Linked DNA regions of Homo sapiens: regions 1, 2, 3, 4, 5 and 6 are each linked to region 7. The links come from fine-mapping of genetic effects on gene expression. A gene starts in region 7. Each other region holds a variant in brackets. All regions are shown on one strand. Distances are from middle to middle.

Region 1 (4,069 bases), 39 kb before region 7:
AGAAGTAGCAGTGTTGAGGTATTAATTATATTTTTTTATTTTCTATATGAGTGATAATCTGGTATCTGGAGTTTCACTGACTGGAAAGAGGCTGCCCCACCCAGGGCTTGCTAATTCTTAGAGATAGCAGAAGACTCGCTGAGGAGAGCACCTTTCATCTGTATACCAACCAATCCAGAGCCCGTACTCACAACCACCTTCTCTATCTGGCTCTTACACTCCAGGAGGTGGTATTCTTCTGCCCTACTTATCCCAGAAACAGGTACTGGACAATTAGGGTCAGCTCCTATGCCCCAGAGCCCACTGAAATTATTCAAACTAGCCCATTCTAAATCTGCATGCCTTGCCTTTCCCACAGAAACCACAACAAAGGCTCTGAACTCTGCTTTCCTTGACTTTCTCTGCCTGAGACTCCCGCCCCCCGCCCTGGTTCTTCCCCATGTGGCCCAGGCCTCCTGTTTCTAGAGAATTGTGAGAAAACCCCTCATGACAGTCATTTATGTGCCTACATGCCTTATCGTTATCTGATTAAAACAAATCAAGAGTATAGTTTTCAATAGCTGGTCAGGAAAACAAATAAATATCAAGATGTTTAAGACACTGGCTGGTGTAAGGAACAGGTACCGGACAATTAGAGCTAGGTGTGAGGGTCAGTCTATGTTGATCCACTCTGCCATGGAGCACACTGATTGGCACTCAGAGCTCGAAGACTCTCTCCCTTTGCCCTTGATCTAAACCAGCTTTCTGAAAATTGTCTCATCTGTCACCTAGAAGTCAGCATTTACTCTTTGAACTTGCTGGACTTTCCTAGGAATATGGAATATTTTGTCCTATGGGAATAAAATATTGAGACCTTAAGTAGCATTTGCAGGTGACCTGGAAAACCCTGAATCCACATCCCTAGAGCACAATCAATGCCAGCTCAAGTGATACGGTTTGGTTCTGTGTCCCCACCCAAATCCCATGTTGAATTGAAATCCCCAGTGTTGGGGGAGGGACCTAATGGGAGGTGATTGGATCATGGAAGTGATTTCTAATGATTTAGAACCATCTCCCTAGTGCTATCTCCTAATAGAGTTCTCACAAGATCTGATGGTTTAAAAGTGTGTGGCACTTTCTTCCCCTTCACCTTCCCTCCATGACTGTAAGTTTCCTGAGGCCTCCCAGCTATGCTTCCTGTACAACTTGCAGAAATATGAGTCAATTAAATCTCTTTTCTTCATAAATTACGCAGTCTCAGGTAGTTCTTGCAGCAGTGTGAGAAAAAACCAATACACTAAGGTGGCTGTTATTATTAATCTGGTCTCATTGCAAGGCAAAGGAGTCATAATTAGGATTTGCTTTTCTTTCTCTGGTGAAAAGAAGAGGTAACTGACTGACACACAAAGAAAGAAGTCAACAAAGCATCTTCCCAGTAGCTGTTTTCCTAGTCACGCATCCAATGTGTGATCTAAATGCTCAAGAAGGCACGCTCCTTTCTTTCCTTTCAGAACAACCACATTTAAACTTTGATCCTCTGGGACCTGTAGAACTTTCCCCTCACTGGTCCTCAGTTTCTCCGTCTATACAGAGAGATTGATAAATGAGTTGATCTCTAAGGTCTTATCCAATTTGCAGAGCCCGTGATGACCAACTGAAGCATTTAGAGACAGGCTTAGCCTTGAGTATAGTGAGACAGAAGTCCCAGTTAGATCGGAAAGCTCTAACTTTATTACAGATGCCAATTCCTTTAATACTGCAGGACTGCCGTGCATGAGTACATGAATGCATACACACATACACACACAAGAAAGAAAAAAGACTGGTTTACTTATTGATTTTGGTTTATCCACATTAAAAGCCAATACTTTATACTCCAGACAACTCTTTCTGGGTTGTAGGCCGTCTGGATAGCTCCCCAGATGCTGATCAGACCCACCAATTATCAGGAAGACAGGCCCCCACCCCTAAATAATGGAGGAAGCATGTGAGTATTCCATAGAGAACAAAGATTTGGGGCCCAGGATATTCTAACCAGAGCAGGTGCAAAATGCATTTCAGAAGGAGAAGCTAAGTGAAGAAAAGCTCCTTTCATTCCTTCAACTTAGGAAACTTTTCTTGGGGCATTGATTTTAGACATCCACAACTAAACAAAGTCACCATTAATTTTTACTTCAAAGGCCTTTTCTATGAGCTCTAGTGGGACAAGTGGATTAGGAAGGCATTTGTGGTTGTGAATTTGCTGTTATTTCTTTTAATGTGGTGCATCTGACGTGCTAAATGCACTAAGTACCTAATAAACTGTAAACTGAATCGTGAACAATTTCATTATCTTGTTCAGGGACACAGATATCCATTAGTTAATTCACCTATTTGCAAAATAAACAAAGGACGTTTTACAAATGAGAGAAGCATATTGTTTTTAAATTGTATTTATTAATTCATACTCCAGACATCAGGCAAGATGATAGGCTGAGAATTAGCTCCATCTCGCTTCCACACTTCTCCCAATAAGAGAAAAAAAAGA[C/G]AAGTGAACTCAAATTTTTACAGCTGTGAGTGAAAGTTTAAGCCAAGAAAAATTCCTGTGAGTACTTATATCGAATACATGGTTCAGGAGCTGAGGTTTAAATATCTGTGGGAGAAATGAAAAAAATATGGCCACGTATTCCGAGGCAGTCTGAAGTGGCCTCACTGCACAAAGCCCAGCATAACAGAAGCTACGCTACCTGTGTACTGAGGCTAGAAATGTTCCACCTGTTGGACAAGGAGCAGGATGGCTTAACCAAGGAGGAGACAGAGGCAGAGATTAAACCTCTAAAACTGTAAAGAACACTACCATGTAGCTCTTATGAATACTTTTCAGAAGATGTAAAAATTCCTGATTGGGAAACTATTGTCAGAAAGGACCTGGTCCTGATTAATCTCATGGATCTCCAGATGACTGCTTCTACAAATCATTCTACACTCAGGATTCCCACAAAAACGAACTCCACTGGATATTAGAAACCACAGAAAAAAACTGCCATGTGGTATCATCAGCAATGGCAAAAGACATGGGAATTTGTACCCAAAGAAGATACTTTAATTAGGAATATTTAAAGTGTTTCAAAAAGCAAATTAAGAAAGGAAAGGTACAATGTAAGAATATAATAGAATAAAAACATAATAGGCAAATCTAAAAATAAAAATAAAGGGGCTAAAACTGAGGGGCAGGGAATTCAGCATCTTGGCTTAACAATTGATTAACCAATACAAAAATCAAAAGAACCATCCAGAATGCAGGAGAGCTGTGCAAAATGGAAAATAGAATCCAAGAGATATGAGGCTTAAGACATAAATTCCAACACAATCAGATAGGTGTTCAAAGGGACTTGCCTTGTGTTTCCTAACTTGAATGAGCTGTGACCAGCTTTGGTTTCAAGACTGTAATAGTCTTATCAAAAGTGCCGGTCAGTTTCCCTCTTTTCCTAGTCTCTGTAATATTTTCTATTATTTAATAGTTATTGTTCCTTGGTAGGAGGTAAAATAGGCCTGGGGAATGTGTGGAGTGGGGTTGTTGGTGACTGAACATTTTAACTATAAAGTTATTCGATGGTAACATTTGAGGATTTTTATTTCTTCTTGAGTCAATTTTCATGTTTATAATTTGCTTTAAAATGTATACAGTTCAGTCATTGGCATTAAACTGACTAACTCATTTTTGAATGTACATTTGATAAAATCAAATACTCATTTATATTTTTAAAAAATCTTAGTAATCTAGAATCTGAAATAGATAACCTTAACCTGTTAAAGGTATTCTACTAAAATATGTCAGTAAGTGTCACATTCAATGTAAAAAACAGAACAATTTCCCAAGAGAGTGAAAATGAGATCGAGATGCCTACTGTCACTATTTATTTAATATTGTATTGGAGGTCCTAGGCAATACATTTAGACAAAAAAAATAAATAAATAACTGATAAAAGTTTTAATAAAAATAAATTTTTTATTATTTGCAATTTACATGATTTTTGTAGATGAAAAAACTCAGGCTCTACCAATAAGCTATAGAAGTAGTAAATGATTTTAGTGAGGTCTCTGAGTAGAT
Region 2 (4,069 bases), 110 kb after region 7:
CAGCTGTCCTCACAGCAAGATGTCCAGGCTTTTTCTTGTGCTTAGGAAAAAACACTCAACCTCAAAAGCACAGCAGCAATGTTATGATGCTGATCCCCTCAGTCTCTAATGGAGCTGAGCAAATGAACAGTCACTTAGTTGCATGCAGTCCCTTCATTTACCCAGTGTGCTGTACAAATAGATGGTTTCTATTCTATGTGTGTCCTATTGTGAAGAGTTGGGAGATACTACATTACAAGACACTATGGTCAAATCCCAAATTACCTTTCACTTCCTCTCCCACCACTACCTGTTGCTCCACTCATGTCCCATGCCTTTCCTCATCATTTGGATATACGTGATATGTGTGAGTCCTTTCTCTTGCCGAGAGAGCCCTTCCTCTTCCTCTCTGATGGGTGGGTTCCTTTCAGACATGTTTCAAACATCGCCTCATCTAAGAACACATTTTCTGCATAGGACAAGCCTTCTTGCTTCTCTGGTCGCCAGAGCACTCACCGTTCTGTATTTTCTGACTCCCTCACAGACAATTTCTTGACAAGGACAGGGACCATAATCTATATACCTCATGTCTGCTCTATTGCCTCACACAGTACCTGGCACATAGTGGGTGGAACTCAACAGACACGCTGTAGGTGTTTTGATGGATGAATGAATGAATGAATGAAGATAATTGAAAACACATGATTTTGGTGCACAGTTGCTTTGCTGTTGATTGTGGCATAAAGCACACCTCCTCTTCATCCAGCACTTGCCTCTAGCACCAACCCAATAGTGTATTCCATGTACTCATTTAAAGCCTTTAAAGTGCAGAATAGCATCTCTTGGTAGTAACTTACTTACTCCAGTATAGCCGAGTCTGGGTGACACACTGTGTTCACTCATCTGCAGAGAACAGTGTCCTGATGCTCTGGCCCTATGCAAGAGAAAGTCTACATGCCCAGGAGGGCCATAGGTCTGAAGAATGCAAGATAATGTATCAATAAAAAATGTAACTTGGATTACTTATTTTAAGGTTCTGAGTTCGTAGTATAGTTAGTCATGTTTCTTCATAGACTCTTTATTATTTTTAATGTAATTATTTCTATGTACCAAGAAAATAAATATTTATGTGAAAAAAATTTTGACACTTAGAAAATCAAGACATAGTAAATTAAATATATCCTGTAATAACCTCACCATAGGCAGAGGATCACCGTTCATACAGCAGCATGCATGTGTACCTTCTTTTAGTATAGATGCTTGTGTGGACATGTGTGTGGATGTCCTTAACAAATTAGTACCCTGCTTTACGTGCTATTTTGAAACATATTTCATTTACATAAAAGTGTATCATGGGCATTTTTATACCAATAAATATTTTTACTGTATCCTTTGTGAGGCTTTAACATTTTCATACTATAGATTGAGTATAAATAACTCTGTAAATATTATTTGACTATGGGTTGAGTTCATTACCTGAGACTCATAAGATATTCTCATTACCATAGCCATTTGTTAACTTGTCACAGAGTCAACAATTAAAAATACACTGGGTAAAATTATGCCTTGTAGCCCTAATCTTTAAAAAGCTTGGCTTTATATGTTATTTACTGAGTCTTTCAGTTGAGGCTGTAAACAGTATATCATGTTAAGTCTTCACGCATAGTCTTGATGAAGTTTGCTTTTGTCCGTGGAGGTCAAAAGCACTACGTAAGGTTTGTTCATATGGATGTTTGC[G/A]TGTACCTCTAAGAAAGTTTCAGGCTTAATAAGCACGGTAAACCATTTGAGATGGGCCATTTTTTTTTTACGACATATAGGGTCTCCATTCAGATACTAGTCTGTTTCTAAGCCAGCAGTTATAGTCACTGGGCTCGTAAATCATTAGGGCATCAGCATCAACTGTGAAAACCCCAGGATCTCTTCGTGAGGGCCTGAGAGAGGCAGGCACTGTGTGTGTACTTACAAAGGGCATGCTTTGGAGTGCAGAATAGACATGCAGTGAGCTCTGGAAACCTAGGGGGAGGGAGAAACTCGTTTTGCCGAAGAGCAGAGACAGAGGGTGATGTTTGAGGTGGACCTTGAAGAAGATGTAGGATTATCCCAAAAGGACAGAGGGAAAGCAGAGTCCTCCAGGCAGGGGGAATCATCCAAGTGGCTACCAAGGCGGCACAAGCCATTTATTAAAGAAATGCTAATTGTGAATGCCAGGAAAGGAGGGTTTGGGGAGATGGTGTTTTCAATTGATTTCCTTAGAATCTTTTGAAATGACCCAATAAGTAATCACCTCTTAACCCCTGTCTCCATCTCAGATTTTATCCAGAATTCCAGACCCCATTTCCCATGGACACCTGAAATATGGCCATCCCCAAAACAGAGATTCCCCTCCCCCCACAAACCTGTTCCTTCTCCTGGGTTCCCGTCTCAGGTATTTCATCGTCCTCCAACCAGTGTCTAAGCCAGAGGCTAAAATTGTCCCTGAGAATGAGGAATGGCTTCTTCACCCCATATCTCATCAGTCACCAAATCCTATGGAGTTGACCTCAGATTAGTCCCTGTCTCTACTTGCTCCTCCATGCCCACTGCTGCTCCCACACCTCACACCCTCAGGGGCTCTCACTGCCCCTTCTCTCTCTGTTCTTGCTTCCTTCTGGTCCTTTTCCATATTAACCACATCACTAGATTATTTAACACCTATCAAGGATGTTTTCCACAGGTAAAGCCCCCAGCTCCTGAACATGCTGTCGAATTCACACTGCATCTGGCCCCAACTGCATCCTTGACAGCATCTTGTTATTCATACCTACAGCTTAAATCACCCTAAGTGGAACTCCGGATTCCCAAACAGCATTCCCTGCTCTTCCACCCCTTCCACATCTGCATTGTCACTGCTTCTTAGGCCTGGTTCATAAGAACACTTCCACACTGTGATAATCAACTATGGGAGAGGGACAGAATCTCTGCATCCCTGGGCCTGATGCCATCCCAGGTCTGGGGTGGCATATACCTGGCATGCTTGTAGCTTCTCCCAATCCGGTATGCATGACAGACACCTCTCGTTTGCCATGACATTCTTTTTTGATGCACCTGTAGTGATCCTCACATGATTCCCAACCCTGTTTTCTGGCAGCCTCCATCAGTCTATCAGGGTCTATCAGGCCGTAAGATAAAACTTTTGACATGCAAGAAGCACAATGACAGAAAATGTTTCTAAGGGCTGTTACAAAAGGGGCCCTAAGTATAACCAAATCCAATATATAACAGCATATGAATAGCTTTGCAGAAAGATTCTTGCTTTGCCAAAAAACACTCCAGGATATGCATAATGTAATGTGATCTATATAAATTCAGTTTCCATGCACTTCCCAAATTACGGGTCAACTATATTATACAGACACAAAAAGCTAAGACACTTGCCTAGGTTTGTGAAGATACTAAAGAAACAAGCATGAAGGAAACTCAGGCATTTAGCATCTGTGAAGTTCACATTCTGAACAGTGGCCCTTCATCAGTCCTCTCAAAGATGGCTGAGACATAGACTTGGACCTCCAGGAGCTCCTGGTCTAGTGAAGAAAGAAGTTAATATGGGCACTAAATTCTCCAAGTTTCTCTGATAAATGACAGAGTCGTATTGGGAGCACAGAAAGGTGTTGGTTGCTTCTACCTAATGAAGGTAGTGAGGTCAGAATAGGATTCCAGGAGGTAATGATCTTCAGCTGGGTCTAAAATAAGTGTTAAGGGTTTGCCAGTCAAACAGGTGAAGGACAGAAAACATTCAGGGCAGAAGAATGGCATAAAATTATTCAGATTTTATTCAGTAAATCTCAACTGAGACATAGACTTGGACATAGACATGTCCAACATAGACATAGACATGGAAACTGAGCACTGAGTGGATGGAAGGCCCTGCATTTGGCTCCATAGTACAAGGCAAGATCAAAGTCTCAAGTCTTTGTCCCTAAAGCCAGGCAAGTGAAATGTACAATTGCAAATAGTATGAAAATTGATAATGATTGCAGTCATACAGAATCCTCTAGAAGCCCAGAGGAACAGCTCACCAGCCTGAGGGGGTAGGAAAACCTGTTGGTCATTT
Region 3 (4,069 bases), 110 kb after region 7:
TAACTTCTGAGTGTGTTGAGCTTTCCAGCATCATTCAATCAAGCAAAACTCTGTGCTAGGCCCTGAGTCCCATCTGATTTGTTAGAATTTGTACCTCCTGGAGGCACTGTGATGATGTCAGAGGAGCACAGGCTTTCCAGATAGCAAAATATAGGTTTGAATCAGAAATCACAAATCTCAATTCAGTAACCTTGTGATCTGGAATAGATCATTTAACCTCTCTGAATCTTAGTTTTCTTTTCTATAAAATGAAGGCAATGACCTCACCTTTACAAAGTTATTGTAACACGAAACTTAACATGGAGCGCCCATGACCTGGCCAAAGTTTTATTACATGTTAATTCTCTTTTCCTTCTTTTGCATAAATGATTTCTACACCCGGCTATTGGGAGGCTGCAGATTGCACCATTTTTGTGGGTTTGCTTACCAGCATTTGTGCCCCCTTGTGGTGGCAATGAGGTTAATTAAGCATTGCCAGGAAAGTGGAGAACCATAAACATTCCAGTTCTGGGCAATGTTGCTATGCAAATCTCTATTCTGAAATTTGTGAGTTAGCAGGGGCAGCCTCAGTGGTCAGGATTCTGCACTCAATCCTGTGAAATCCACCTCCCTAGAAAATGAGACCGCTCATATCTCCTCTGTGTAATTATTTGATTATGTAAAATATCTACTTGGTTTAATAACCATAATACAAAATTCCTTTGGAAGGAAGAATCAAATATTAAATCTGAGATGACTGTGAGCATTGAAGTGTGGATTTTTGTCTAAAGAAATAAGCCCAAATATCAATTGTGTTTCCGAAGGTAAAGATGGGCTGAAGCTTACACAGAGCACTGTTTGCCGCTAACCTCTACCATTCTCTCTCCATCCAGGTTCACTACAAAGCACTTGAACGATGAATCAACTTCCAAACAGATTCGAGCAATGCTTCAGTAGAGCTCTGCTCAAAGAAGAGGATCTATGTGCTGACCTCAGAAGATGTATATGTTTACATAATTTAATACAGATTGATGTTAATACTTGTGTATTTACATAACCGTTTCCTTCTTGTCACTGAAATATATGGACCTTAATTTGTATCCTGACTGACTCAACCCAGCAGAGCATAAATTGACTTGAGAGCCTTACCTTTGATGTCTGAAATGAAACCCCCTTCTCCAAAGGCAAAATTCGGAGACTTTGATCTTTGCTACTGGAGTCCTTTAACAACATCTATAACGATAAAAAATTCCTAATTGTTTGTGGTAGTATTTTAATTCTAGATGTGTTATCTCTCTGGGAAGTATAGTTTATAGAAACACAAAATATTTGATTTCCTGTGTCGGCTCAGCTACAAGAAACACAACTGTTATCTTGACAGAGGAAGAGAGGAATCCAAGAAAAATGCATGTGGAGAATTAAACCCAAGTGTTTCGAATTCAGCACACCCCCTCTCTGTCCTCAGACTGCAGTCCACACGTGCAACTTTTCTGTTTGCACGTGTTTTATTAATCAGCATACTCCTTTTCTGTTTGGATTTATATCCCTCTAATGTTCTCCTTTAATTTCACATGAAAAAAAAATCTCCTGTATTTTTTTCAGTTAGTGGGAGAGCAGCAGAAATAGATAGATGTGCTGTTGCCACTGGACTGATGAAGGTGGCTGTCTTGGAACTGGGAGACAGGTCCTCAGAGGTGCACTCAGGCAACAGGACAGCCATCTCTCTGCTTCAGCCCTCTGCCTACAGGGATTAGGGAAATGGAGCTCTGGCTTTGAAGTTATTTGTGAGTTTAGCAACCTTCCAGTTACCTGCAGAGTTCTGGGTGCACAGCCACCCCTCATAAGAGCCCTGTTCTCTGAAGACCATTCATATGAGAACAAAGGTCTAGGATACTGCATTAGTTACCAGAAAACTAGGGGAATTTAGAGGGAAAAAAAATCCATGTTTTCTATTTCCCAGGTTTTTAAAAAGTAGCTCTTCCCCAACCCCGTTGCTAGCTTGTTGCAATATAAAAGCCCTGGTGCACCTGAATTTACTCCTGGCCTTACTAATGATTCATAATGTGATCTTGAGAAATGTGTTTAAGCTTTCTGAGTCTTAACCTC[C/T]TTGTCTCTAAAATGGGCAATTAAAACAATCTTCAAGAGCCCTGTAAGGTTAATGCCGATAAAATGACTGACTCCGCCCTTCTTCCTTAGTACGTAGTATCCAGCAAGCATTTGCCCCACCTTGTCTTGTTGATGAACAATATTATGAAGCCTGCAGTCATTCTCTCTGTACATCAGAGCTTAGTTCGAATGGAATCATGAAAATCTCTGATTCTGACCTCCTAAGGAAAAATGAAACCCAGAGGATGTGGTCATACAGGATGGCTCCCATGTGGGCCTAGAACCCAGGATGCTTCACTCTTGACTCCATGCTCTTCCTTTTATACCATGTGGCTGTGAATACATACTATGGGATGGGATTCAACCCTTCTAAGTAAATCCTCAGTCTGGTCTATATTGTTACTTGCCTGTTTCCACTAGAAGGAGTCACCCAGGCATTTAGTGAATGATAATCCTAGAAGTTGAGTCTGAGTACATCAGAGTTTGGCATTATTTGCAACATCCCAGGAATGAGCTATAAGACTCCATTGCTTTCTGGACTTTAGTGACCAGCTGATCTTCCCTTGGATCCTCCAATAAAGGGGAAAAAATACTTGTCTTATGTTGTTTTAGCAAGGGAGTTCAGCCAAGTGACAGGAAAGATTCCCTGGTCTGCATCTAAACATTAGTCAACAGAAGGAAAAGGCTCTTTTCCTTGGAGATTTTCAAGTTGAAAAAGTACAGCTGCTTGGATGGAGTTTCTCTCATCAGAATAGAAATATGCTAGGTGGTCTTCAAGACCTTTTTGAACCTACAGATTCTAAACCTTAGAGGAAGCCAGAATATGTGATCATACCAGGTGAGGAAAGTTAGGAGATATTCATCTTAAGAGATATCCTATTTGGCAGTCACATGTTACACTTGAGCAACAATTGTCTAGGCTAGAAATATAGAACCACACAATATTTATCATCATTGGGTCAATTTCTCCCCCTCTATCAAGTGAGGAGATTAAGGCTTAAAGAAAGGAAAGGACTTGCCAGCCACCACAGGGCTCATGAGGGGCTTGAACCCATGTCGTGTGTCTCTACCACAGCTGACTCTCAGCTGGCTAATGGAGAAAATGTGAGGAATTACCTGTCAAATTAGATTGAGCTCAGAGTAAATAGATGAGCACATTTATAACTCTAAATTAGACTTTCTATCAAATGGGACCAAACATATGGAAGGGGCTGCTGTCCTGCCTCAATTTAGCCAAGACTTGTCTTGTCTCAAAGCCAAGACTCAGCAGTACATGGATTCTGAGAAGTCCAGGGTCTGAATTGTTGTCTCTGATTACTGGAAGGACAGGTTAACTGAATGTCTGTGATCACTAACAGGTGATGGGCTTTGTGCCCACTCCAGAGATATTGTGGGAGACAAATTCTTTTAACAGCCTGTCCTCCCGGCATCAGGAGTCATTGAACAATCATGGATTGTTGTGTTTGGGATTTTTTTTTTTTTGGCTTTGTTTTTGGTTTTTGTGTGTGTGTGTGTGTGCTGCATGCACATGCGTCCAAGACTTACGGGTGGTTTAGGGGAAAGTGCTAGCAACAGTGTCAATGTCATTGTTAACTATATTTCATATTTGAGGTCTCATTGTTTTCAAATAAACAGTGTTTTCCATGACTGAGATATTTATTTTTGGGAAAGCAACGAGGTAAAAATTATGTTTCTCAGATGCACTGCTACTTTGGCGTTATTACTGTGTTCTCAGAAACTCGTTGTGCACCACTAGGAATTAGTAGTAGAAAAAAAAAAACAATAACAAAAAAAAAAAACAACTGGAAATGGATGTCTTCACATTAGGGGTGGAGTATTAACAACCAGAAAGAAAGTTTGGATATTACCTTTTAACTACTAGTTAACATCATGCTTGATCAACATTTGCTCCTAGTTATCACCATTAAATTAAGACCTTAATGGTAAACTGAGGTTACTGATGCATCATCACATTTAAGTAAAA
Region 4 (4,069 bases), 45 kb after region 7:
CCTTTCCTTCTTATGTGCAAGGAATGTGGCCACATCTACTAGAATGTCTTCATTGGAGTTGCACCTGATGTAGGCTGACATTCCTCCTAGATGACTAAAGTTTGGTCAAGCGTTCAGCTGCCTGGATTGTGGTATATTAACACATCTCTCTTACGCAGGCCCAGTGTAAGGAATCATGGTCAGGAGTCATGAAAAAAATGCCAACACACTGAGATGGCCACACATCTTCACTCTTGCACTAGTTTTTGGTGTTATCTTCTGCTATCCTGTCTTGAAGCTCTTTTTCAGCTAGATACCTTGACTTTTCTGAAAAACTAAAACCAGAAGCATTTCACGAAGCTAAGCACAGGACAGAAGGTAAGACCAGGTGATATCTAAAGCTTGTTTTGCATTCCCAGGATTGTCTTATCCCAGACTTGTTTCTTATGCCAGACTCTTATTCTTTGGGGAACATGTTTATCTCATGCCTGCTTCCTTTCTTCCTCTTGTGGTTTCTTTCTCTAGAGTGGTTTCTGAGCTATAGCATAATTCAGAGGAAGGAGAACAGTTTTGCGACTTAGACACACATGACTTCAGATCTCAGCTGTGCTCTGTGTTGGCTCAGTGATTTTGCTTAAATCACCATTTTAAATCCCCAAGCTTCTGTTTCCCCACCTGTAAGGTAGGGATAGTACACTCCATGTTATAAGCTGGTGTTGAGGATTAAGTGAGATCACGCATGAGCATGGTTTCTTGTTACAGGAGACCTCAGCAAATACCAGCTCCTTTCCCTACCTACCCTTTTTTAGAGCTACTTGAATATAGCTTTGATCCCATATCTGGATTTCATTTGAGCCTTGTGCCTAAAATCTAGGACAGGCCTTGTCCACAAATACTGTTAAGCCCCAACGATTTAAAAAGGAGAGAAACTGTTAACAGCCTTTTTATTTCAGAGCTCTTCATCCATAGAAGCCTTTTCTCACCCGGACTTTAGCCAGATTGCCTCTCCAGCCTGGCCATTGGAAGGTTTTCTCTGCCATACCCAAAGTTAGAACTACTACTTTCCTAGCCCTTTGTCCCATGAGGTATTAGCTGAAAACTAATTCCCTCCCGGTGGCTTTTTCCCTTCAGACTAGCCTACATCCAAGACCAAGAGTAAGGGTCAATTGATTTGGGGCCGGTATCCTGGCCTGGCACTCAGCAAGACAGTCAGGGTCCAAGCACATGCTCATTCAGGGCTTTCTTCCTTGCCTGTTAGCTTTTCTAAGGCAGTCATTCACCCAGTCATCCATTCAGTCAGTAGATGTTCATGGAACATGAACCATGCAGTGGGTGGCTCGCACTATCTTGGTGCTAGGGATACAGGACAGAACAAAACCAAGTTCCTGTTCTCAAGGAGCTTGCATTCAAGTAGGATCAAGGGATCATCAACAAGTAGCAAACATGTATGTATTACATCTGGTAGTATTAGGTGCTATGAAAAAAATAAAGCAGAAAAAAATAAAGCTAAGTCAGAGAGCTAGAGAGTTGAGGGAAATGGACATTACTGTTTTATATACAGTGCCAGGGAACACCTCTGGATAAGGCATTATTTGGGCAGCATCTGGAGAAAGTGAGGGAGCAAGGCTAGAAGGAAGAGCCAGAACTAAATCTCTGATCGGGGAATGCACTTGGGCTTTACCCAGTCTCGAGTGACCAGTAGGATTGGAGCAGAAGGAATGAGGAGCCTGTGGAATGAAGCGAGGGCAGAAAGGACTTGGGTGTTTATGTTCTGGCTGGCTTTTCTGGAGATTCTTCTACCCTTCCTTTCTCTTCCCCAGAGCTCTTTCCCAATGCAGTGTTAGTCATTCATTCAAAAATCTTTACTGGGCCCTAGCTACTGGGACTCTGTAGATTAATGAGTCTGGGCCCCATTCTTAGGACTCCATGGCCTGGTGCTATCAAGGTTTCTTGGGGAAGTTGCATCGATAAAGTAGGTTGATGTAAACAGTTGTCTTAATTTGATCATCATAGAGTCAATTTGCTAGAGTAGGAATTTTCCACTGGAACCTCCCACAGGTCACTTTTACCTGTTCTCTTGGAATTTACTTACATGATAGACTATTGGTCTTTCTCGCCTTCAGGGTAGAAGGAGGATCATTCATTCAGCAGATATATGAGTGCCTCTTCTATGTGAGTGCTGTACCAGGCACTGGG[T/G]ATAAATGAGGACTAGGTCAGCCCCTGCAGTTGAGTTGCTTCTGGTTTTACCAGGAGACGCACTAATGGCTAGACAACACACTTTGATCAGTGTTGCATTAGGAATGGGTGCTTGGGGAGCTCAGAGGAGGAGTCCCTGACCCAGATTGAGGGGTGGAACCATGGAAGCTTCTTGGGAGCAGGTTGTCTGCACTCAGTCCTGGAGATGAGATGTAGCCAGGCAGGAACCAAGCAAGGAGGTTAAGATGCTTCAGGGAAGGGTGTTAGGAATTTCCAGGCCGGGAGATGGAGACACATAGGCAAGGACTGTGCCTCGGGGAATCCTGTGCACCTTCACCTCCCTCCTGAGACTGTGGAATGTGGAGAGGTGAGTCTGAGAGACCAAGGGACTCACTTAGAGAGGGAGGTGAGGGTATGAATCAGGGATTTTTCAGACCAAGCTAAGTGGTTTGAGTCTGTTTTGAGGACAGCTTAGAACTGCTCACAGTTTTTAAGCAAAAATGGATGAGTTATTAGGATTGGAGTTTTAAGAGGCAAAGAGCCTAATTTTATTTGAAACCCTGGTTCCTTAAAATGCTTATTTTATACCTCTTTCATATATTATTATAAGATTATAGTTTCCTTGGCTGTAAAATAAGTTCACACAGATCAACTGAATGAGATGGCTGTGGGTAGCAGATGCATACAATGTCCCTTCCCACCATTGATGCTGCAGTGAATGCTAAACTTGTCATTTCATGCCCAGTCTTAGTACACAGATAGCTGTGAAATGGTTAGAACATAAGTTTTGTTTCTCTTAGAACTGGCTGGCAAAAACTTAAACTATTCTAGTAGAAATGATGGGATTTAGGTCTTGTTACATTTTCTTCCCATCAGAAAATGAATGAGTAATATCCATTCCTTAACCCTCTCTCCACTGAATACTAAAGTCAGAGTGTTCTTTTAGAAATTACGCACTCATTAAACAGGTAATATCTGAGTATCTACCAATGGTCACACCCTGTGTTGGGCCGTGAACATCAGGACAAATCAGACAAGGTCAGCACCTCAAGGAGTTTCTAATCACGTGACAAAGACAAAAGCAGCCAACAGAGAAGCAGATGGCAGACAAGAACCCAGACATGAACAAAGTGATGTGGATGCAGAGGATGAAATGTGTTCTCTGCCCAGGAAAGTCAGGGAAGGCTCCAAAAGGAGCCATATGATTTGGGCATTGAAGGATGAGTAGGAGTTGCGAGCTGGAAGAGAGATGCTCAGGTACAGAACTGCACTCTATAAATAAGGGCCAACATTCATTTCTCTGTCATGGGTGAGGAGGAAATAGCCAGCCTGCTCATCATGCTCAGATAATGCCTCAACTCTGCTTTTCAAAAATCCATTAGTAGCCACCTCCTCATCCTCCCACTTTGTTCCCAACAGCGACTAAAAAGAAGCAAATTGACTAATTTGAATTGATCTTTTCTCTGACCCTATGGAGGTGTTAGTGAGCAGAATAGGGTAAGGGGACCAAGAAAAGAAGTAGAAAGGAGGAGGAATTCATCTTCATCATCCAGAAACGCTGATTTAACAGCATGGATTACACCATAGCTCTCTGGTGGTAAAATGCAGCTTTACAGAGACCTGAGTCTGCTTCTTCTAAGTGAAAACTGTATTTCCCCTGCTACCTTCCCTTTGGAACTCTTGGGGTGGAACTCTTGGGGTAGAATATGTATATGTGTGTGTGTATATATATATATATCTATATATGCACACACACACAGAGGGTTTTATGTACGTGTGTATGTACATATGCATGTACCTACGTGTGTGTATATATGGGTATATATGTGTGTATGTATATATGTGTACATTATGTAGAATTTATTCTAGAACCTAGCTCAGAGCATGGTGCAGT
Region 5 (4,069 bases), 190 kb after region 7:
TAGACACATTGCTTGTGAAAGCGAAAATGCAAAGTACTCCTTGCCTGGGATTGAGAGGACCCTGAAAACAGGCAGAGGAAGGAATCCCTAGTAAAGTTACCCGTGACATCGTGCTTCTATTTCAAGCGTAAAATTATTTTCTACAGCCTTCATTGACAGATTTTCCTGATGGTGACCATGATCGTGATTCTTAGAATTTATAAAACACACAGGTGACCAGTCTCTAATTTGAGCTTCACTACAATCCTACAGGAGAGAAGCAGGATTGGAGCAGTTTTTCCCTAATTATAGAGGGAGAAAGCATGGCACAGATAGGAAAAGCCCAAGAATTTATGGCCAGCAAGTGAGAAAGCCTGAACACCAACTGTTTCTTCTTAATTCAAGGCTATGCATGGCTTTTCTCCTCAATCTTGTGCCTCTCACCTGAAGCTTAAAATTTCAGGTATATTACATTCATGTCTATTACATCTATATAACCATATATTTTTATTTGGGATTAAAATGTTTTTACTATATATTAACACTTTCTCATCTTCTTAGAAGAGACTTTTACTTCACATAAACTAATCTTTTCCTGATGCCTCTTGTTTACCCTGTGGATATATATTATCATGGTGTGAGGAACCTTAGATCTAGACTTGCTCTGGACTTTCTTTTGATTTTGTCTTTAAAGTCAGGCTATCCATTCTCCAGCGGGAATGGGGTCATCTCCACACTGCATTGTCCTACATTGCTTTGAACTGAACTTGTAAATAGTTGAACTTGTAAATAATTGCATGCTGATTAAAAATTATTAAGGTCATCACCTCACATTTTGTACACTCACGTTTTTAGACTCTTTAGAGTGTGAAGACATGTTCTTGCAGCATTAAGTACTTCAGCTAAGCCTTGGCTTTAACTCTTAACAGGTAAACAGGAGGTTTGAGCCCTTTTCCTCTGTGAGGATGTTCCATGAAGGAAAATGAATTCACACTCTTTCATGCCCCCATCTCTCAGACTTATCCCCCTCCTGACCATTCATACAGGATTAGGCTCACAGTAAATGTCCCAGTGAGCTGCAGAGGAGCATGGACAAGCATGGGAGTTGGCTGAATTACCTGCAGCCTTGTGTAAGTCTCTTCACTGCTTTTAGTGTCAGTTTCCCCCTCCATCATATGGTGATGTTATCACATACTTTCAACATTGGGAGGATGGTGTGTGATTTAGGTAAGACACAAAGCTGAGTGCCTAGCAGAGAGCTGGCACTCCCTACGTGATGGTTTTCATTTTCTCTCTCCCTCCTTCCACCCCTTACAAACACACACTTGTGTTCACATCCCACACCATTTCCCCATTTCCCTTGTATACACACACCATACACACTATTCCCATGGCTTTTGTATCTTGATGACATTGTCTTCAAAAGCAATATCACAAAACTCTGCCCTCTCTTGTCACAGCAAACAGAATGAGGTCAGATGTGGTGGTTCCTCAAGGCTGGCTCAGAGCATCAGTGAGGACAATCTCTCTGGATCCAACCAATCTTATGCAGCTGAAA[T/C]GAAGGCAGCCAACCACTGAGCACATGCGGTTTGTGGTCCAGCCAGAGCAGTGCTTTCATTTACAAAAAATAAATTGAATTAATGAGTGTGTCACTTGGTAATCTTAGATTCTTCAACAAATGAGTCAATAAGAATAATAAAATATTTCACAGTGAAATTGAAATAATAACCATTTCTGTCAATTTATTTTTTTATTTTATTTTGTTTTTTTGAGATGGAGTCTCGCTTTGTCACCCAGGCTGGAGTGCAGTGGTGCGATCTCGGTTCACTGCAACCTCCGCCTTCTGAGTTCAAGCGATTCTCTTGCCTCAGCCTCCCAAGTAGCTGGGATTACAGGCATGCACCACCATGCCCAGCTAATTTTGTATTTTTTTAGAGATGGGGTTTCACCATGTTGGCCAGGGTGGTCTCAAACTCCTGACCTCAGGTGATCCACCCACATCAGCCTCCTAAAGTGCTGGTATTACAGGTGTGAGCCACCGTGCTTGGCCTGTCGATTTATTTTTATCACATGGTTTAATAGGTTATTTTGAGCCTAGTAAAGGAGATAGAAATAAGACACTCAAAGAAATTCCAGAGTCTTTGTCTCTAATTAATTTTTTGGCTATGAATTCTACTGCAGAATGCTTTGTGGCCTTGTCTTTTTATAAATGAACTGAGGAAGCAATGGCTGAATAACTTGAAATTCATACTACTGGCCCCATTGAAGGATTGATCTGCCTTTACTTTATGCAATGAAAGAGTCTGGAGTAAGATTCTGTGTTAGTAAGGATTCTCCAGAGAAACACAACTAACAGGGTATCTATTTATCTATCTATTCACACACACACACACACACACACACACACATATCTGCACACACATATATCTATATACGTATATGGAGATTTATTATAAGAATTGGCTCATACAGTTATGGAGAACAAGAAGTCCCACAATCTGCTGTCTCCAAGCCGGAGAAACAGGAAAGCTGGTGGTGTAATTCAGTTTGAGTCTGCAGACCTGAGAATCAGGGGCTGATGCTGTAAGTCCCAGTCTGAGTCCATAAGCACTAGAACCAGGGGCATTGATGCCTGAAGGCAGGAGAAGATGGGTGTCTCAGCTCAAGCACAGACCAAATTTGCCCCTCCTCTGCTTTTTTTCTTCTATTCATGCCCTCAATTAATTGGGTGAGGGAAAGTTTCTTTTCTCAGTCTAGTGATTCCAATGCTAATCTTTTCTGGAAACCCTCAAAGACACACCCAGCTTCTTGGCCATTCCTAGCCCAGTCAGGTTAACACACAAAATCAGCTCTCACAGATTCCATTGCCGATGTGAGACATAGTCGAATAAAGGAAAGAGTACCTGGCAGTGTCAGGAACAGGCAGATTTGGGACATGTCCCCTGTTCTATTACTGGCTGTGTGACATTGGTCAGAATCCTAATCTGAGATTCCATAGAATGTAGCTAGCAACTTCTACCTTGTGGATTCACATGAGTATATAAAAAACAATCAAAATAAAGCACCTAGTACAATATCCTACCATCCAATAGGCACTCAAAGTATTAGTTATGTTATTATCATTACAATTATGGTTTTTTCATCATTATCATTTTCATGTGAAAATTTTCCCTAGAGTCCAGGTCCTGGCTCTGAAGATGTCTCTTCTAGCATCCTCCTGCTCTGATCCTCTGGACTTCCCCAACACCTATAGGCCAGGTGACGCTCACGTCACCTTGCTGGTTTTACGTCATTTCTGTGTTGTTTCCCACTGCACAGCATGTTAGTGCCATCTCCTTTACTATAAGCTGTACCACTTAAGAAAAGGGAAACTTCATCTTCTGTTTCTCCTACAGTTCCTGGGAGTATGTCAGCACCTGTGCCCAGCCAAGATTTCAAGTACACTGTCACGGGCAGAGCTTGCCCTTGAAACCAGGAGACCACGCTCGGAGCGCAGTGTTCCTTCTTCTGCGTCACACTACATTTAGGGAAGAACATCACCAACAGGGATGTCTAGAAAACTCCAGGACTTGGGGATGTTAAACATGGGCCTTAGGGATCCAGGAACAAGAGCTTCTTTAGAAATCAGCCTTAGCTACAGATAAATTTCCCTTCTTCCCCTAAACGCATTTCCACCCACACCCTATGCACATGAAACAATACACTGGGTCTTTGCACAGTAATGCCATAAGGTATATTATGCTGGAACACCTACATTAGATGGAAAGTCCAGTGGGGAGAGGACATGGTATAGGAAGGGAAGGTTCAGGAGAAGTAAGAGAGAAAAGAATAAGAGGCCCAGATAAGCCAAGGGAAAATGATGGGCCGGTTTCATCCCAAGCCCTTGGAATGGTTCCAGCCCACCAAACAACTCATCATAGGGAACACAGAGAGGCCCAGCCATGCTCAACTGTACCTTGTCTCTGATACTCACCCAGAGAACCTCCTACACATCTTTCCTCCTACTGTTTCTTTTTCTCAGTCTCACTGTCTCTCCCACACCTTGACTGTTATCTGATTCCTCACATAAGCCTCAGGCCCTCCTTGTTTT
Region 6 (4,069 bases), 160 kb before region 7:
TGGTGAAAGTGTTAGTGGTTTGGATAGATGAAACCCGCTACACATTTCCTTAAGCCAAAGCCTAATCCAGAACAAGGTCCTAACTCTCTTCAATTCTGTGAAGGCTGAGAGAGGTGAAGAAGCTGCCGGAGAAAAGTTTATAGCCAGCCGAGTTTGGTTCACTAGATTTAAGGAAAGAAGCCATCTTTATAACATAAATGTACAAGGCGGAGCAGCAAATGCTGATGGAGAAGGAGCAGCAAGTTTTCCAGAAGATTCAGCTGAGATCGTTGATGAGAGTGGCTACACTAAACAACATATTTTCAGTGGAAAAAAAAACCAGCCATCTCTTAGAAGAAGATGCTATCTAGGATGTATATAGCTAGAAAGGAGGAGTCAAATTCCTGGCTTCAAATCTTCAAAGGACAAGCTGTTTCTCTTATTTGGGGCTAACGCAGCTGGTAACTTTAAGTTGAAGCCAATATTCATTTATCATTTGGAAAATCCCAGAGCTCATAAGAATGATGCTAAATAAATTCCGCCTGTGCCCTATAAATGGAACAACAAAGCTCAGATGACAGCACGTCTGTTTACATCAGTTTACTGGACATTTTAAGCTCACTGTTGAGACCTACTACTCAGGAAAAAAAAGATTCTTTTTAAAATATTACTGCTCATTGACAATGCACCTCGTCACCCAAGAGCATCAATAGAGGTCTACAAGGAGATTAATGTTGTTTTCATGCCTGCTAACAGAAGATCCATTCTGCAGTCCATGGATCAAGGAGTAATTTCAACTTGCAAGTCATATTACATAAGAAACACATTTTATAAGGCTATAGCTGCCATACATAGGTATTCCTCTCATGGATCTGAGCAAAGTAAATTGAAAACCTTATGGAAAGGATTCACCATTCTAGATGCCATTAAGAACATTTGCAATACGTGGGAGGAGGTAAAAATATCAACATTAACAGGAGTTTGGAAGAAGTTGATTCCAACCCTCATGGATGACTTTGAGGTGATAAAGACTTCAGTGGAAGAAGTAATTGCAGATGGGGTAGAAATATCAAGAGAACTAAAATTAGAAGTAGAGTCTAAATATGCGAATTGATTGTTGCAATCTCATGATAAAGCTTTAACAGATGAGAAGTTGCTTCTTATGAATGTGCAAAGCAAATTTTCTCGAGCTGGAAGCTACTCTGGATGAAGGTATTGTTAATATTGTTGATATGTTCACAGGAGATATCAAAAGATATAGAATATTATGTAAACTTAATTGATAAAGCAACAACATTATTTGAGTGAATTGACTCCAATTTTGAAAGAAGTTCAACTGTGGGTAAAATGCTATCAAACAGCATGACATGCTCTAGAGAAATCTTTTGTGAAAGGAAGAGTCAATCCATTTGTCAAACTTCATTGTTGTCTTTTTAATAAATTGCCACAGCTGTCCCAATCTTTAGCAACAGCCACCCTGGTTAGTCAGCAGCCATGACCATTGAGGCAAGATCCTCCACCAGCAAAAAGATAAAAACTTGCTGAAGACTCAGATGATTGTTCGCATTTTTAGCATTAAAGTGTTTATTAATTAAGATACATGCATTGTTTTTATAGATAATATTATTTCACACCTCAAAGACTATAGTATAGTGTAAACATAACTTTTGCATGTACTGGGAAACCAAAAAAATTC[A/G]TGTGACTTCCTTTATTGCAAAATTTGCTTCGCTGTCATGTTCTGGAACCCAATCCCCAATATTTCTGAGGTATGCCTGTACATATTTGAAACTTTAACAATGGATTTGTAATTCTACTGCAGTTAGTCAGGACTATTTTCCTCCTTACTGCTAGTAGAATTGGAGGTATTTTCTATCTTTGCAAGTTAGAACAGGTAAACCAAGCTGGATGAATCAATATCATCACTCACTCCTTCCCAGAATCCTTAGGACCACAAACTTTTTCTCATATAAATCAAATATTTCATAATATAGATTTTTGTATTGACAAAGTCAGAAAACAGTTTTGGCCTTTATATGAAAAAAATGCACCTTGTTAGTATCACCTGTGAATGTTTTTGCATTAGAGGAGGAGAGCCTTGGATACTCCACTGCAGCAGCAGCTACAACAAAAAGAACACCAAATACATCAATACTTTCAGGCATGTCTGGCATCTTATACCTAACAGACTAGCACACAGCACATGCTCCATCTATTATTCTAGAAAGAAGAAAGGAAGAAAGGAGAGATAGAAGAAGGAAGGAAGGATGGAAGGAAGAAGAGAGGAAAGGAAGAAGAGAGGAAAGGAAGAAAGAAAAAAGGAAAGAAGGAAAGGAGGAAGATATTAAGAAAAAGGCTGCATTTTGAGATAAAATAGTGCATAAGTGAAATGAAAAGATACTTATTAAAGCAAATAACAACAACCAAAACTACCTAGAAATAAGTGCACTACTAAAAGAGATAAACACATCAAAATAACTGAAACCTTAAGGTTTGTAAAAATTAGACTCGGATTTCAAGATTGCCTAAAGGATGAAAAATGCCACAGAGTCTGATTCCCTCAGGATTCCTTTGTAAAAATGCATGGGGTTTAATCTCAGCCTTTATATAATTTTATTTCATATAAATGTATATTTTAGTTATATTTAATTCCATTTGGGGGATAAATGTCAAAATGTCAGGTCATTCTATAGTTAATAATGTGGCAAACTAGTGTTATTTTCTCTGGTGACTCTCTATGAAACACATACACTAAAACACAAGCATGCATACAGATACACACCACCACCATCACCAAGTTATTTATGAAGAACAGAATCGTGGATAAAAGCTTAAAAGTTTGAAAAGTCAGACCGATGCTTCCTGGACCTTCACTTGCTAGTCTCTCTAAGTTCTCATTTGCAAAATTGGGAACATGATAAAACCAGCCAAATTGTCCCATACAGCTGATATTTAAGGTCTTTTTGAATCAACATTGTAATTGACCCTCCTAGTCTTAAAGCTTGAAATTTATATTTGTCTTATCTGAGTCCCTTTTTCAGGAAACTGACCCTCTGGCCTCCCAGATAGTATAAAGGAACTGAAACTCACCAGATCACCACATCCAGACAATGAAATGCCAAACCCCTCATTTGTCATGATTGCTTCCTTACCTCTCACTAATTCCTGTTTTCCTGCATAGCTACATTCCTTCCCCACTATATAAACTCCAAATTTTAGTTAGTTGAGGAGACAGATTTAAGGCTTTTCTCTGGTCTTCTCAGCTAATGTCTTCCAATTAAAGTTTTTCTTCCCTGGCGATACTCACTGTCTCCATGATTGGCTTCCTGTGTGGCAAGCAACAAGACCTAGACCAATCCCTTGGCATCAGTATAGTAATATTTATGTTACAAGAAAGTTATAAAGAAATGCTCATTTATTAATTCTACAAATAGACACAAGTTGCATCCTCTACACCAGGCGCCCTGCTAGGAGCTTAGGTGCAGACACAAGATCCCTATCTTTTAGGAATTTACCTTCCAGATGGGAAATACATAAAGAAAAAGGCAACAAATAAATGCTGTAATGCTCTGAACAAAATTCTAAAAGGTTTTGATAGAAAATAATTGGAAGGACTACTTTAGATAGTAGGGTCATGAAAATCCTCTTAGATGTCATTGAATCTGAAACCTTAGGTGTGAGGAGGCATCACTGAGGAAAGACAGATTCAGGCAGGGAGAATGGTGTACACCAAGGCCCTAGGAATAGTGAGTTCCAGACAAGGTCCAGGGTACTGAAGAGCAGGGGGCAAGGAGAAGAAGCACGAGGTGAGTTATAGAAAGGAGTCAAAGTCAGACCATGCAGGCCTTTAGATCCTAGAAGAGTATGCATTTTATTGTAAGGGCAAAACAAGGCTGTAAGAAGTATCAAGCCTGAGAATGACTTTATCTGACTTACATTTTTTAATAATGTAGCTTCTGTCTGGAGTATGAACAGCAGAGGAGCAAGAATAACAGTGGAAAGATGAGTTAGGAGGCAAATCATATCAGATTAGAAAGAGAAGGTAGGGCCATGAGCTAGGACAGTAGCACCGGAGGAGAGAGATGCTCATGTT
Region 7 (4,069 bases):
TGAAGTCTAACTTCCCACGTCATATTTTAGCTTAAAAATGCGCTTTTCAAGAATCTGCTCTCAGTTTCCCCCAATCACAAAGAATTCTTTCTTTTCCTGGGTCCACACAGCAAATATCTCTGTTAGTCTTTTTCCACAGGCAGCCTGCCTGTGTCCTCCTCAAGACCAGGGAACTGTGTCCTTATTCCATTACTTAGCACAGTGCCTGGCACTTTGTCCATGCTTCATCAATCTCTTTTAAAAAAGAAATACATGAAAAAGATGTCCTTGAAACTAGCACAGCTCAGTATACATTTACTTTAATTAAGATATTAAGGTTCATCTTAGCACACATATTGTGAGTGACAACCATCTGAAATTCAGTCTCAACTTACCTGCCTCCTAAATGGCAGTTTAATTTCACTATAATCTTTATGATAATAACCTTTAAACTTGTTATTAGTATTACTGATAAAGTTAAAAGACTTTCATCTGGTAATTTTGTCTTAGGAAACATTCAATTATTAAATTCCACACTGATCATTAGAAAACCCTATTATTTCATAATGGGCTGGGCAATACCATGCAGGTATCCCTCGATTATTGAAACAGAAGCCATCTCTAAGTGTGTGGAAGTGAAATCTCATGCATCAAATAGTCTACTCACAAACTTGAGCTGTATTAGTAGAGACAGATGGGTGTAAAGTGAAAAGTCCTCTCATGGTCTGAAATGATAGTGTTTTATGGGGATGAATGGTGTTTGTGGCTGATTAGTCCTCACTCTTCCCAAAACCTGGCCAAACTCAAGGTGGACAGATTAAGCCAGAAAATTTTAGGGGTGTGTGTATGTGTGTGTGTGTGTGTGTGTGTGTGTGTGTGTGTGTGTAGTAGACATGGTTTACCTCATGGCAAGAAGGCTTTTCTCATAGAGCCACTCACAGATAAAACACCTTTGCCAGACGGCTGCGGTGGTTCACGCTTGTAATCCCAGCACTTTGGGAGGCCAAAGTGGGTGGATCACGAGGTCAAGAGTTCAAGACTAGCCTGACCAAGATGGTGAAACCCCGTCTCTACTAAAAATACAAAAATTAGCCGGATGTGGTGGCAGGCGCCTGTAGTCCCAGCTACTCTGGAGGCTGAGGCAGGAGAATTGCTTGAACCCCGGGGGATGGAGGTTGCAGTGAGCCGAGATCACACCACTCCACTCCAGCCTGAGCTACAGAGTGAGACTCTGTCTCAAAAAACAAAAACAAAAAAAACACCTTTGCAGGAATTGACAACAGAGGCTGGTCTAGGGCATGGGGAAAACTCAAAAAGAGAACGGGAAAGTGTTTCTTCTGGTCCTAAGGACCCCTTCCAAGTGGGAAAATATTTCACTCTAACTAGACAGTGCCTTCCTGCCCTCTGTGAATTTTTGCCAAAAAACAGACCAAGAGCCTCTGTGGGCAGTTCAGGAGAGCCTTTCAGAGTGCAAAGGAAGCTTGGGCAACAAGTCCTCCCAGGGGAAACACCCTGGATCTCAGAAAGGAGAGGGGCCTGAACACCTTCTCCTGATGCTTCCCGCCTCCTCTGATCCCAGCCCACACAGGGCCCCAACCCATGCAGCTTCGGGCACGTACCTTGGCACACTATGGGGATTTAACACATGTTTCATGATGTTCTGGCTGATGGACTGGGAAAGGAAGCACCCGAAGCCGGGGTCCCCAGGAGCTCTCCCTCCCCTCAACAGGAGCTCTGACTCACAACCTGTTTGGCACTGCTGAGTCCTCTCCGGTTTCCTGAATCTCCCTCTCTCTAATGCAAAAAGCCTCCATGGCAGATGTTTTAGAACAATGATCACGTCAATGACGCTGTAACCCACTACTTTCTTTTTGCATCATAGAATTTTTTAAGTGTTTTTGCAGACTTACTCTTTAAGGTTAATTACATGTTTTGGATTGAGCCTTTGGGAAGACTTTACAGTGGTCCTATCGGATAACTGCGGGCCCCAAGGCTGGAGATCTGTTAATAGGGTGGGCAGAAAGGGACTGGGAGCGAGACTGGGTTCAGAATCTCAAGTAATTTGGAGTGTGCCTAGGGATTGGGATGATTTGGCTGGGCATTAATTTGAAGGTGAATATGCGTCTAGAGATTGCGGGGATTTCTTTTTCTTGGAGGGCAACCGTGGGTGTGGAGGAATTTGGTGTGCAGAAACAGAAAGGTCTGGTTCGGGCTTCCTCTGGGAAGGCAAGGCCAAGTGGCCAAGGCTGAGAAGGGGCAGGGGCGACCGTGCTGGGGCGGGTCCGCACCAGCTCCTGGGAGCAGAGAGCAGAGCCGGGCAAAGAGATGGGGTTGTCCAGGCTAGGGTGAGGACGCGGCCGGTGACAGCGCGGGTGGGGATCCCCCGGGGCCGGGGCGGGGCGGCTGCCGCGAGCCGGGCTGGGGGCGGGGCGGGGCGGGGAGGGACGGGGAGGGGCGGGGCGGGGCTCCGAGGCCGTCTCGCAGGCTGCGGCGGCCGCGGGAGAGGCGTACTCGGCGGCGGCGGAGCGGGCGGCAGAGCAGGGCGGCGGCGACTCGGTGAGCGCGGCGCGGCTGGGGGCGCGGCAGGGGCGCGGGCGGGGGTCTGCGGGCGCGGGGCTCGGCCTGCACGGGGCACCGCGGGGCACCGCGAGGCGGGGCGGGCGCCTCCCTGCCATCCTTCTCCTCCCGGACGCCCCTGCAGCCTTTGGGAGGGAGGGAGAGCGGAGGACACCGTCCGGGAGCCCTTCTCTAGCGATCGCCGGACAGAGGTCCGGCTTTGTGCCCCGTTGCCCTCTTTCTGAGAGGGCTGCCTCCTGATTGTGTTCCTTTCCCAGACCACCCTCCCTCGTCCCTCACTCACTTACCCCCCACCCCAGGTATCATAAGCTCCATTCTTGCAGGGGACCCCTAACACTCCCCTTCCCACCACCCGAGGCCCCGGGGTCCTGGGTACTCTCTACAGCCCCAAAGGGAGGGATGGCCCCCTCCCCAGCCCCTGCACACCTGGACCCTTCTGTTGCCACCTGCCACAGACGTTCTTAGCCAGCCAGAAAGCTGCTGTGCCTAGGACCCAGCACACCTTGCCGTCACCCTCTCTCCTCCCCCAGAACCCAGAACCCCAGTTTGGCAAAAGGCACTTTTCCAATACTGAGCTTTGGGAACAATTTGACCCACTTCCCAAAATGCTGGTCCCAGGCCAGCCATGCTTTTTGGTGGAGACACCTGTCTTGTCTGCCAGGAGACATTCTCTGTCAAAATGGGCCAGCCCGTCCCTGGGTCCTCCTCCAAGCTGCTCCTACTCGCTAGCCAGTGTCCCCAGAGACCAGGGCCAAGATCTTTGTCATTTAAGGCCTCCAAAGCTATTTCCCCACGCATCCCCAGAATTCCCCCAGCCACTGTTTTGGGGGTGCCAGGTCCAGAACTGATGGAGCAATCTTTCTGTGTCCAGGGCCTGATGTCCTCTCCCACACCCTTGTTTACCCGCCTGCTCCCCAGGGAACCCAAGACAGGGTCATGGGGCTGGAGTTTAGGGCCCTGATCTCCCCTGAAGCTCTGTGACCCTCCTTTTCTCCCTGTTAGAAACTTTCCTCTCTGTCACCAGTCACTATCTCCTCTGGATGGGACCTGGGCCATCTGCACAGTGTCGAGTCCCCAGGGCACAGAATGCTGATCTGGGACCCTGGAAGGCTGGGACTTGTGCTGGGGCAGCAGGAGGAGAGTGGCTGCTAGCCAGGTCTGGGCTTGGGTACCAGAGTTCTTTGGGTGGATCATTGTCGGCTTTCACTGATCTCTGGTTGGGGTTCGAGGGCTTGCTTTGCAGTGGAGACAGGAGGCAGAGCAGGGGCTGTTTTTCCTGCGTGCTTCTGACTGTCTTGTGTTGCTATGGTGACAGTTTTGCCTGTCTTCCTCCTTCTGACTCTTCTGGGAGCTGGTTTTTATTGGTCCGTTGTCCTGTCTTTCATGGCTCTAATTTCTCCTTTCTACTTGCTCTGAAATAAACAGTCATAAACATGGGCGCTGGGCCCAGGCTGGGGGCTGGCAGAACTTCACCTCCTGCTGGCCCTGGGTTCCTGTGAGGGGAGAGTGGGAA

Alleles and levels. Positions count from the first base shown, and alleles are read on the strand shown. Sizes are in standard deviations (SD) of each study's normalised expression. Not every link is listed here.
For the expression in skeletal muscle of the gene that starts at base 2,481 in region 7, G is the high allele of the variant in region 1 and C is the other (small effect, 0.23 SD a copy in GTEx).

The links. PIP is the estimated chance that this variant, and not a neighbour inherited with it, causes the effect. A credible set is the group of variants that fine-mapping cannot tell apart.
Region 1: its variant is the best candidate, but not a certain one, in a credible set for the expression of CYRIA in skeletal muscle (GTEx, PIP 0.77).
Region 2: its variant is the best candidate, but not a certain one, in a credible set for the expression of CYRIA in whole blood (INTERVAL, PIP 0.67).
Region 3: its variant is the best candidate, but not a certain one, in a credible set for the expression of CYRIA in whole blood (INTERVAL, PIP 0.58).
Region 4: its variant is the best candidate, but not a certain one, in a credible set for the expression of CYRIA in whole blood (TOPMed, PIP 0.57).
Region 5: its variant is the best candidate, but not a certain one, in a credible set for the expression of CYRIA in whole blood (INTERVAL, PIP 0.64).
Region 6: its variant is the best candidate, but not a certain one, in a credible set for the expression of CYRIA in whole blood (INTERVAL, PIP 0.85).

Annotation. Positions count from the first base shown.
Region 1 is chr2:16,703,503-16,707,571 of GRCh38, reverse strand. No RefSeq gene overlaps it. Among named protein-coding and RNA genes, the nearest start is that of CYRIA, 40 kb to the right of the region's middle. The variant C/G (reference allele first, on the strand shown) is at 2,507.
Region 2 is chr2:16,555,260-16,559,328 of GRCh38, reverse strand. The region is part of intron 10 of CYRIA (CYFIP related Rac1 interactor A); the gene reads left to right. Among named protein-coding and RNA genes, the nearest start is that of CYRIA, 110 kb to the left of the region's middle. The variant G/A (reference allele first, on the strand shown) is at 1,717.
Region 3 is chr2:16,549,803-16,553,871 of GRCh38, reverse strand. It overlaps CYRIA (CYFIP related Rac1 interactor A), which reads left to right. Exons shown (of 12, transcript NM_030797.4): 12 at 873-4,069. The coding sequence ends at 936. Among named protein-coding and RNA genes, the nearest start is that of CYRIA, 110 kb to the left of the region's middle. The variant C/T (reference allele first, on the strand shown) is at 2,086.
Region 4 is chr2:16,619,227-16,623,295 of GRCh38, reverse strand. The region is part of intron 2 of CYRIA (CYFIP related Rac1 interactor A); the gene reads left to right. Among named protein-coding and RNA genes, the nearest start is that of CYRIA, 45 kb to the left of the region's middle. The variant T/G (reference allele first, on the strand shown) is at 2,176.
Region 5 is chr2:16,471,224-16,475,292 of GRCh38, reverse strand. The region is part of intron 1 of LOC105373444 (a long non-coding RNA gene); the gene reads left to right. Among named protein-coding and RNA genes, the nearest start is that of CYRIA, 190 kb to the left of the region's middle. The variant T/C (reference allele first, on the strand shown) is at 1,538.
Region 6 is chr2:16,822,410-16,826,478 of GRCh38, reverse strand. No RefSeq gene overlaps it. Among named protein-coding and RNA genes, the nearest start is that of LINC01866, 140 kb to the left of the region's middle. The variant A/G (reference allele first, on the strand shown) is at 1,676.
Region 7 is chr2:16,664,246-16,668,314 of GRCh38, reverse strand. It overlaps CYRIA (CYFIP related Rac1 interactor A), which reads left to right and starts at 2,481. Exons shown (of 12, transcript NM_030797.4): 1 at 2,481-2,535. RefSeq lists silencers at 2,275-2,444, 2,515-2,564.